2 separate regions of the Homo sapiens genome follow, and region 2 is linked to region 1. The links come from fine-mapping of genetic effects on gene expression. A gene starts in region 1. The other region holds a variant in brackets. All regions are shown on one strand. Distances are between the middles of the regions.

Evidence for each region. PIP is the estimated chance that this variant, and not a neighbour inherited with it, causes the effect. A credible set is the group of variants that fine-mapping cannot tell apart.
Region 2: its variant is the best candidate, but not a certain one, in a credible set for the expression of RPS12 in whole blood (INTERVAL, PIP 0.71).

What each region holds. Positions count from the first base shown.
Region 1 is chr6:132,811,842-132,816,841 of GRCh38, forward strand. It overlaps RPS12 (ribosomal protein S12), which reads left to right and starts at 2,728. Exons shown (of 6, transcript NM_001016.4): 1 at 2,728-2,772; 2 at 2,891-2,941; 3 at 3,131-3,247; 4 at 4,620-4,722. The coding sequence starts at 2,928. SNORD101 (small nucleolar RNA, C/D box 101) reads left to right here and starts at 3,466; the gene lies at 3,466-3,538. It overlaps SNORD100 (small nucleolar RNA, C/D box 100), which reads left to right and starts at 4,961; the gene lies at 4,961-5,000. It overlaps LOC107986644 (a long non-coding RNA gene), which reads right to left and starts at 2,447. Exons shown (of 3, transcript XR_001744345.3): 1 at 1,452-2,447. RefSeq lists enhancers at 1,194-1,263, 1,693-2,439, 2,354-2,633, 3,064-3,193.
Region 2 is chr6:132,844,433-132,849,962 of GRCh38, forward strand. No RefSeq gene overlaps it. Among named protein-coding and RNA genes, the nearest start is that of SNORA33, 30 kb to the left of the region's middle. The variant GT/G (reference allele first, on the strand shown) is at 2,295.

The DNA of each region.
Region 1 (5,000 bases):
ACTATCCTCTATGTAGTATTGTCTTCCACCTTTACCAGTCTCTGAAATTGAGAGGAGGTAACCTTAAAAATGTGAACTAGGAGGCTGGGCGCAGTGGCTCACACCTGTAATCCCAGCACTTCGGGAGTCCAAGGTGGGCGGATCAACCAAGGTCAGGTGTTCCAGACTAGCCTGGCCAACATGGTGAAACTCCCATTTCTACTAAAAATACAAAACTTAGCTGGGCATAGTGGTGGGCACCTGTAATTCCAGCTACTTGGGACTGAGGCAGGAGAATCGCTTGAACCTGGGAGGTGGAGGTTGCAGTGAGCCAAGATCCCGACACTGCCTTGGCTACAAGAACAAAACTCCATCTCAAAAAAAAAAAAAAAAAAAAAAAGTGAACTAGGAGAATCTATATTAAAGAACCCCTGTATCACCAGTGTGCCCCCTGACTTCATTTTGGGGGTTAGAACTGGTTATATAAGTAGGACTTATATAAGTAGGTTATATAAGTTATATAAGTAGGTTATATAAGTAGGACTTAAAAAAAAATGTAGCTCCCTCTAAGGAGGGAGGTTTGTGTGAAAAGACATTTTAGTGCAGTGAAACATTAAAGCAGAGATCCACGATGTCTGAGTCAATAGAACAGATTAGCAGCTGCTGAAAGATAGAAACCAAGTCTGAGCTGGTTGGTACTGGGAACAACTGCCTTAGCTAACAAGGCACTTGATCATTTTCCCCCCACATAAATATGCTGTTTGGCAGTGAATGTTTTCACTTAGGTTTCCCAAATTCCCTGCTTCTTCCTTAAAAATTTGTTTGGGGAAGGAATCTAATATGCTTAGCATATCAACTGTACTGTCTTTAGATAATGAGAAATGCGCTGAAAGACTATTTGCCACATTCTCTTTCAAAAATACAAACGTGTTAATTATAACCTCCAAAAAAGGCAAGAAGGATTTCATGCCTTTGCCCCTACACTTTCATCCATTTAGAATACCCTCCTCTCCTTCCATGCTCACCGATTTGGAATCTCTTAGTTTTTGTTTTGAGCCTGTTTCGAATGCTGCCAGAAGCCTGAGGTCCTCTTACCTTTTCACACCATCCCCACTCCCTAACCCCCTGCCACTTTGTATCTCCTCTGTGGCCCTGAGGTATTCTGATTTTTGTCTAAAATCTTAATCCCACCACAAACAAACCAGGGCTACAGGAATGAATCATCTTTATAAATTCCTCGTTTTTTTTTTTTTTTTAAATCAAAAGCTCAATAAACATTTGCATGAGTTACTGACAGAGAAGCAGCTTCAACGCTTTAAAAATGAAACTGAAACCAGCGGAAAATCTAAAACTGAACTCTATCAGTAAACTGAACTCTATCAGTTTATTAACATTACAGCAGGTCTCTGTTCTGGTGAACTCCCTGGTGCTCTTACTGCGTTACCCATTTTTGTTTTTTTCGCTGCACTCACCAGTCTAACAGTATCTGCCCACTGGATTCACAGCGCTGGCACGTGCCAAGCGCCTAATAATTGCTCACTGGTTTGGCGGCTGACTACCCAGGAGAGGAAATTAAACACAAAGGCAGTATTGATCATATTCAGTAGTGTTTCGTGCGTTTGGTTTGGAAGTGGGGATTGGGGAATGGCCAATCACTTCCAAATTTAAAATATTGCTTCCTGGAAGAAAATGGACTCCTCAAAGACTGGATATTTCATGTCTGTAGTCCCAGGACCTGGCCCTGCGTCAGGCACATTGTAGGTGTTGAAAATGCACCTGAGGAATTCTGAGTTGCGCGGAACTGTGTATTCCGAGCACAACGCGTCGTTAAAAACCAAACAAAGCAGAACAAACTTCGTTCAGAAGCGACTCCCGCTATACTTAGAAACTAGAATTGACCCCTGGCTGCAGGGTTCCGCTTTACCAACACACCGCAGGGAAAGGGCTTAGAAATAGTGAAAGCGGCCGGGGGCGGCGGGTCACGCCTCTAATCCCAGCATTTTGGGAGGCCGAGGCGGGTGGATCCCCTGAGGTCAGGAGTTCGAGACCAGCCTGGCCAACATGGTGAAATCCCGTCTTTACTAAAAATACAAAAAATTAGCCAGGGTGGTGGCAGGCGCCTGCAATCCCGGCTACTCGGGAGGCTGAGGCAGGAGAATCGCTTGAAACCGGGAGCCGGAGGTCGCAGTAAGCTGAGATCGCGCCATTGCACTCCAGCCTGGAAGAGTGAAAGCATGTAGGCTCTCGTTTCATGAAGACAAAGATGAGGATCACACCCACAACGACACAAACATGGTCTCTCAGGGTGACTTAGAAGCGAAGGAACAAAGTGCGCTGCCTGGGGAGGCTGGGTCTTGTAGAAGCAACAGGAAAGTAGAACGTGGTGTGGAAAGGGTTAAAACTGGCGCTCGGCGGGATACAGGGCTCTAGGTGCCTTAAAGAACACGCGGACACACTTGTTTGGCTTCTGTCGCGCTCCGTAGAATGAGTTCCCTGGGCCTCGGTGGGCCACGCCTCCGCAAAGAAGGACAACGCGAAGCTGCCCGCGTAGTGCCTGTTGCACTCGCCAAGGACCGGCCTGGCAGAGATAGAAAACTCGCAGTACGTTTGCCTCAGAACCGCCTCAATCCGGAAACAGAAACTCCCCAGGCCCGGCACTGCGGGAGCCACCTCTTTCGAGGGTGGGAGTGCACATGCGCACAGGGGACCTGAAAAACCCTTAAATACCGGCATGCGTGCGGATGAGGCCTCTTTCCCTGCCGCCGCCGAGTCGCGCGGAGGCGGAGGCTTGGGGTAAGTTGAGCGAGGCGGCAGGGGGGTGTATTGGTTATAATTTGTGGCTCGTTGCGTTCTTGCTGGGATTCGTGACGAGTATCTGGTTCTTTAACAAGTCAATGCTTTTGTTTTTTAGTGCGTTCAAGATTCAACTTCACCCGTAACCCACCGCCATGGCCGAGGAAGGGTGAGCCCAGGGGCCGGGGTTGGAGTTGGGGTCGGGGTGCGGCTGAGGCGTGGGGCTAGAGCTGGCGGAACAGGACTGGGTCAAACGGGTCGCCGTAAGCGCGTCTGTTGTACACTTAGCTTTTGCTGAGTGCAAGGCCTTATGTGGTGTGAGGATTTTAACTGATGGTTCTGATGTGTCGCGTTTAAGCATTGCTGCTGGAGGTGTAATGGACGTTAATACTGCTTTACAAGAGGTTCTGAAGACTGCCCTCATCCACGATGGCCTAGCACGTGGAATTCGCGAAGCTGCCAAAGCCTTAGACAAGTACGTGTATCAGTCTCAATACTGTGGGTTCTTGCAACCGGAACAAAACTGCCACCCAAGGGAAGAAGGCATGGAGTTCATGGTGTTAGCGCAAAAGTTCTGAATGGCATCCGTCCTACCGGAAACCTAGGAAAAGGTATCAGAACTCAGATCTATAAAGCCCACTTAAAATGTGTGGGTTGCTGTTTGGAATGGGGATAAGCACTCAAAACTACAGTGTTTGAATGATGACTTTAATTGTCGGATACCCCTTCACTCCTTTTATGAGTGAAACATAAGAGTCTGACAAACCTGTAGGTTGTGGAGCTAGTCAGTCTTATACTTATCTGGCAGATAGATGAGATGGAGAGCCACATTACATCTGGTAGTTTGCAAAACAAGCATTAATTTAATGGAATTTCAAACTCAGGTTTCAGAAGCATTTGGTCCTAGATGAATTTAGTAGTATAATAGCTGTGATTTATTTGAATTTGGGATATTTGTTAATGTATTTGAATGGATCGAGTTAATGTGTTTTTTAGGGTGGTGGCATTGACAAATCAACCTACTCTTGAGCTGAATTTAAATGCAGTTTTAAGGTTTTACAGGACAAGTTCGTTTTGGTGTAATCTAGCCAGTTCAATCCGATGGAAACGGCATTATTGTTTAATGTATTTAGTAGGTCCTAGTATGAGTCTTCTGTATTTCTATTTCGGCATTATTGCATGGCATTTCATAACTGTTCCATTAATGCCACAGTCTTTTTTTTTTCTTTTTTCTTTTTTTTTTTTGAGACAAAGAGTCTTGCTCTGTCCCCCAGGCTGGAGTGCAGTGGCGCGATCTCATTGCAACCTCTACCTACCAGGTTCAAGCGATTCTTCTGCCTCCCGAGTAGATGGAATTACAGGCACACGCCACCATGCCCAGCTAGTTTTTGTACTTTCAGTAGAAACGGGGTTTCGCCATGTTGGTCTCTGGCTGGTCTGGTACTCCTGACCTCGGGTCATCTGCCCCCCTCGTCTTCCCAAAGTGCTGGGATTACAGGAGTGAGCCATCGTGCCCGGCCTTTCACATGTTTCTTTAGGTATATGAAGCTGGCTTACAAGAAAGCTATTATGGTTGGGTTTTGGCCAGAAGTTTTAAAAATGACTTACACCAATTCAGTGTGTCAGGGACAGAGGTTTTACTGAAGACCAGTTGTAGGTTAATTGAAGATGTATATGCTCCCTAGCAGGTTCTTCAGACTCAAGCAATTTTGTACGCATTTATGTGTTCAGTGGATTGGCTGCTTATGTTTCGCAAGTGTTAGTGCAAAGATAACCCTCCTAAAATGCAAGAATGATGGATTTGGATCTGAGTTTTAGCTCCATTTTCATTGTAATTTGAATTTCAGGCGCCAAGCCCATCTTTGTGTGCTTGCATCCAACTGTGATGAGCCTATGTATGTCAAGTTGGTGGAGGCCCTTTGTGCTGAACACCAAATCAACCTAATTAAGGTAAGGCTGCTAAGGATTGTGTTGGGACTAATGTTCAGTGATGCTTGTATATGGGGGTAAATTCTGTGAAGTCTCAAGCTGTTCATTTTGTGCAGGTGTAAACATTACGTGCACCTGATACTGTCGGCCATTTTAAAGATGATTGTAGGTAGAAGCATTTTATACCTGCAGAATTGAATCCTAATTTTGACGTTGGTATACAACAAAGATTAGTAGCAGGCTTGTAGGTGATCTTAGTGCTGTACATGATGACAACTGGCTCCCTCTACTGAACTGCC
Region 2 (5,530 bases), 33 kb after region 1:
TTTTATAACGATAATTTTGATCTGAGTGTTTAAAAAATCAAGCTGTGTAGCTCCTCTTTTACACTGCTAAGAGCAATCAAAATTAGTCTATGAAGTTTTTGGTGCATAAAGATTTCGTGCCACGACAGTGAGCAACTTTGTTAGATCCTTAAGCTCAGATGGACTTATATTGTTTATTCTGTGTTACTTGAAATTCAAGACTTTTGGCTGCCAGAAAATAAGCAGCTGCCACAAGTAAATCCAGAGGAATCAGGAATACTGAAATTTCTTTTCTGTGGAGACCTGTTCTTTGATGTCTCTGAGACAATACTAAACACGAGTTTCACTTAATTTCAAAAAAGTTTGCTTCATAGTTACAATCAGCTTTGCAATGAGAAGAGATCTCTTATCGTTTTTCTCTAGAAGAAAATACATTTTAGGATTGGAAATCAAATTGAATATCAAGAGTGTATAGGAACACTGACATGCTTTTACAGATGAGCAGACTCAAATTATTTTTGAAGGGCACTGGAATTTAAATAATTGCTCACATGTGCCTTGTAAAATAAATATTGCTTATGAAGTGTGCCAGCAGTTCTCAAACTGTGGTCTCCACATCAGCAGCATCAGTGTAATTTTATGTGTCAAGTTGAATGACTCATGGGATGCCCAGATATTTGGTTAAATATTATAATGGGTATGTCTCTGAGGGTGTTTCTAGATGAAATTTTAATCAGTAGACTCACTAAGGCAGACTGCCACCCCAGTGTGAGTGGGCCTCATCCAGTCTGTTAGAGGCATGAATAGAATAAAAAGTCAGGTAAGGGAGAATTCACGGTCTCTGCCTGACAGTCCTTACATCTGGGACATCAGGCCCAGTGCTATGGCTCATGCCTGTAATCCCAGCACTTTAGGAGGCCAAGGCAGGTGGATCACCTAAGGTCAGGAGTTCAAGACCAGCCTAGCCAACATGGTGAAACCCTGTCTCTACCAAAAATACAAAAATTAGCTGGGCATGGTGGTGCACACCTGTAGTCTCAGCTACTCAGGAGGCTGAGGCAGGAGAATTGCTTGAAACCAGAAGGAGGAGGTTGCAGTGAGCCAAGGTCGTACCACTGCACTCCAGGCTGGGTGACAGAGAGAGACTCCATCTAAAAACAATGACAAAAAAACAAAAAGCAAAAACAAACAAACAAACAAACAAAAACCAATCTGGGACATCAGTCTTTTGCCTTTGGACTCAGACTAAAACTTACTATTGGCTCTCCTGGTCCTCAGGCCTTCAGACTGCAGATCTTGGGATTTTCTCTCTCTTTCACTACATATGTACACACACGCGTGCATGCACACACACACACACACGCACACACACACATATCCTATTGGTTCTGTTTCTCTGGAAAACCCTAATATACTAATACAATCAGCTTCACCTTAGAAAGGTAAATTCTCAAGCACCCTCAGTCTTTTCTTTTTTTTTATACTTTAAGTTTTAGGTTACACGTGCACAACATGCAGGTTAGTTACATATGTATACATGTGCCATGTTGGTGTGCTGCACCCATTAACTCGTCATTTAACATTAGGTATATCTTCTAATGCTATCCCTCCCTCCTCCTCCCACCCCACAATAGGCCCTGGTGTGTGATGCTCCCTTCCTGTGTCCATGTGTTCTTATTGTTCAGTTCCCACATATGAGTGAGAACAGGCGGTGTTTGGTTTTTTGTCCTTGCGATAGTTTGCTGAGAATGGTGGTTTCCAGCTTCATCCATGTCCCTACAAAGGGCATGAACTCATCATTTTTTATGGCTGCATAGTATTCCATGGTGTATATGTGTCACATTTTCTTAATCCAGTCTATCATTGTTGGACATTTGGGTTGGTTCCAAGTCTTTGCTATTGTGAATAGTGCTTCAATAAACATATGTGTGCATGTGTCTTTATAGCAGCATGATTTATAATCCTTTGGGTATATACCCAGTAATGGGATGGCTGGGTCAAATGATATTTCTAGTTCTAGATCCCTGAGGAATCACCACACTGACTCCCACAAGAGTTGAACTAGTTTACAGTCCCACCAACAGTGTAAAAGTGTTCCTATTTCTTCACATCCTCTCCAGCACCTGTTATTTCCCGACTTTTAAATGATCGCCATTCTAACTGGTGTGAGATGGTATCTCATTGTGGTTTTGATTTGCATTTCTCTGATGGCCAGTGATGATGAGCATTTTTTCATGTGTCTGCTGGCTGCATAAATGTCTTCTTTTGAGAAGAGTCTGTTCATATCCTTCGCCCACTTTTTGATGGCGTTGTTT[GT/G]TTTTTTTCTTGTAAATTTGTTGGAGTTCATTGTAGATTCTGGATATTAGCCCTTTGTCAGATGAGTAGATTGCAAAAATTTTCTCCCATTCTGTAGGTTGCCTGTTCACTCTGATGGTAGTTTCTTTTGCTGTGCAGAAGCTCTTTAGTTTAATTAGATCCCATTTGTCAGTTTTGGCCTTTGTTGCCATTGCTTTTGGTGTTTTAGACATGAAGTCCTTGCCCACGCCTATGTCCTGAATGGTATTGCCTAGGTTAAAAAGAGCCCTCATTGCCAAGTCAATCCTTAGCCAAAAAAACAAAGCTGGAGGCATCACGCTACCTGACTTCAAACTATACTACAAGGCTACGGTAACCAAAACAGCACCCTCAGTCTTAAAAACTTAGGGAGTGGGGTTCAGCAATCAGAGTTTTAACAATCTGTCTTGGTAATTCTGTATATTAATATTTGAGAACCCTGTCTCTGACTAATGACCTCTTCTCTGCTTATACCTCATGGTTTCTGCTTACTTATATCTTTTACTGCCTCATTGCTTTTGCATAATGCTTTTTCTGTCCATAGGTTGTTTTGTTTTATCTTGCTTTTTAGTTTTAGCGTCAGTCCATAGTCTGCATCCCACTCTGTGTATTACTATTCAAGTTCCCAAAGAGAGAAGATCTGGCATAAAATATGCCAAAGTAAGGGAGATCCCTTATTAGGCAGAACTCTGATATCAGATCCTCTCATTCATTTATTCATTCATTCATTCATTCACAGCTATTTATTGAGATCATGTCTTTCATATTCTAGACTTTGGAGACACAGTGAAGAAGTTAAACAAAATATTCAGGTATCCATTGCTCTTAAATCCTAGTTGGAGGGATGAACAGAAAATAGAGTAAATATTTATGGTCCACAATCTGTTACCTGTGATTCTGAAATTCAAAAAGCTCTTCAAACTAAAAGGTATTTCCTAACTCATTTGGCAGCAAAATCTGACCTGACTTGAACTCATCTGGCAGCAAAACTTGACCTGAAAAAAGGTGAAGTTATTTGTAGTCTTTAATTATCTCTCTTACTAGGAATGTCCATGCATTGAAGAAGTATTAATGTTTGATCATGGAGAGCTGCCATGGACCCTGATGAGAGTATGCCATAAAGCCTTTATAAAATTTTTTTAAAAATTGAATTCTGAAACACAACTGGTCCTAAGGGTTTTTGATATGAGATGTGGACCTGTTATAAAATGTCAGGGAGTGCAAAGTGCTAGGAAGAAAAATTAATCAAGGTAAGGGGATAGATAAAAATGGAAAATGCTACATAGATCCTAAGCATGAATGATTGTTATGGGTCTACCCAGCATGCATCCAACTCTAGGAGCAATCACTAACATGTGGGCATGAAGAAATATAATCATTTGTAGAAAATAGAAGGACTTTGGCAAAAAAAAAAAATCCTTCAAGAGGAACTTAAGTTAAAGTCTTCTAATCAGTTCCCACCAAGTAATTCCTTAAATACAATAGAAGATTTTACTAAAATTATAGCCTGATATAGTAAGATGTGAATGCTTGTAAAGTATGTAGAATTCAAGGAAATGGATTTAAAAAGAGGGAACTGTATCCTCTTATAATGGGGATATAAATATATGTTTAGATAATTGATGACTAAATGGATTAATTAGTGACATGGAGAAGAGAGTCTAGGGAGCAAGGGAGTCTGAGTTATCCCTGTGTGTATGCACGTGCATGTGTGTGTGGCCCAACCAAAGCATATTTATGGCCTTTTTATTATGCAAAAATGGCATATGGAAATCTTCTATGAAATGTTAGTGATAGCATCAGCTCTGCCAACTTTAAATTCTGGTGCCACTATTTACGTTTAACATTTTTCTCATGTTACACTGCATGTAATAGTCTTCACCTGCTAGGAAATATTATTACTAAGCTATTATTAGCATGTTTAGTATTATAAGTGGTGTCTGACTCTTCTGCCTTTTCTTATTATTTTATCTTGAGTGTATAATTTATAACAATATTTACTGTGCACTAAACTGTCATAAGCCCAGGGTAAACTTAGTGAATATTAAAGGATGGCTATGCATCTTTGTCATGAGCTAAATTAAAACTTTTAAGTGATTTCTGCCTATTTGATCTCTAAAAGTTTTAAATGAAAAGTTATGTTTGGCAAAGAATTATGCATTGATAGCTATGAAATCATAGTTTGGGGGGAAAATAATCTTTTATTTATTTATTTATTTTGAGATGGAGTCTTGCTCTGTCACCCAGGCTGGAGTGCAGTGCGTTCTCGGCTCACTGCAACCTCTGCCTCCCGGGTTCAAGTGAGTCTCCTGCTTCAGCTTCCTGAGTAGCTGGGATTACAGGTGCCCACCACCACACCTGGCCAATTTTTGTATTTTTAGTAGAGATGGAGTTTCACCATGTTGGCCAGGCTGGTCTCGATTTCTTGACTTCAAATGTCCCACCCACCTCGGCCTCCCAAAGTGCTGGGATTACAGGTGTGAGCCACCGCGCCCAGCCGTGAATCTTTTTGTCATCCCCCTTAGCACATGATCACACAGTCCCTGCTTGATGCTCAAGGTAATAATTGGCTGTCTCCATTTCTTTCTACGACTCCATTTTTGCTCTATAATGAGTAAAACATAGTATTAGCAAAACTATGTGCTTGTGTTTTCTGAAGCTGTAGAGACTAGACTACTCCTTCAACCTTTAACATATACTGTTATATTTGACCCTCGCTTTTTCTTTCCCAAGTTGTCACAGAAATGATTTTGTGACAAATGTTTTTGGAGCTTTTCTTCATAGTTCCTGTCTTCTAAACCAATTGCCCTCCATTGGACACTGTCTCATTTTGTTTTGTCCATTTGAAAATATAATACCCAGTTGCAGCCACAGCAACCTAGGAGGGCTATGACCAATACAGAACATAGTGACACTAAAAGTTTCCTATATCTGGAACCATGCTGTTATTTTTGCAATCCTATTATATATTTCCTTGTTTATTGTTTTATGCTGTTAACAGCCTTTGGCACTTTTGTGGCACCTCACGTGAGCTACTCTGGACCTTAGCTTTTTACATCTTGTCCTACAGATTCACGTTTGATTGTATAAGTGATATGCAGAAACCAGTCTATTTACTAGTCAGTTGGTAGGTTGATGTGATACAATTACACACAGGAATGGTTCAAAATAACTGGAAAACTTAGGATTACATTAATTATAATTTTAAAAGCAGAAT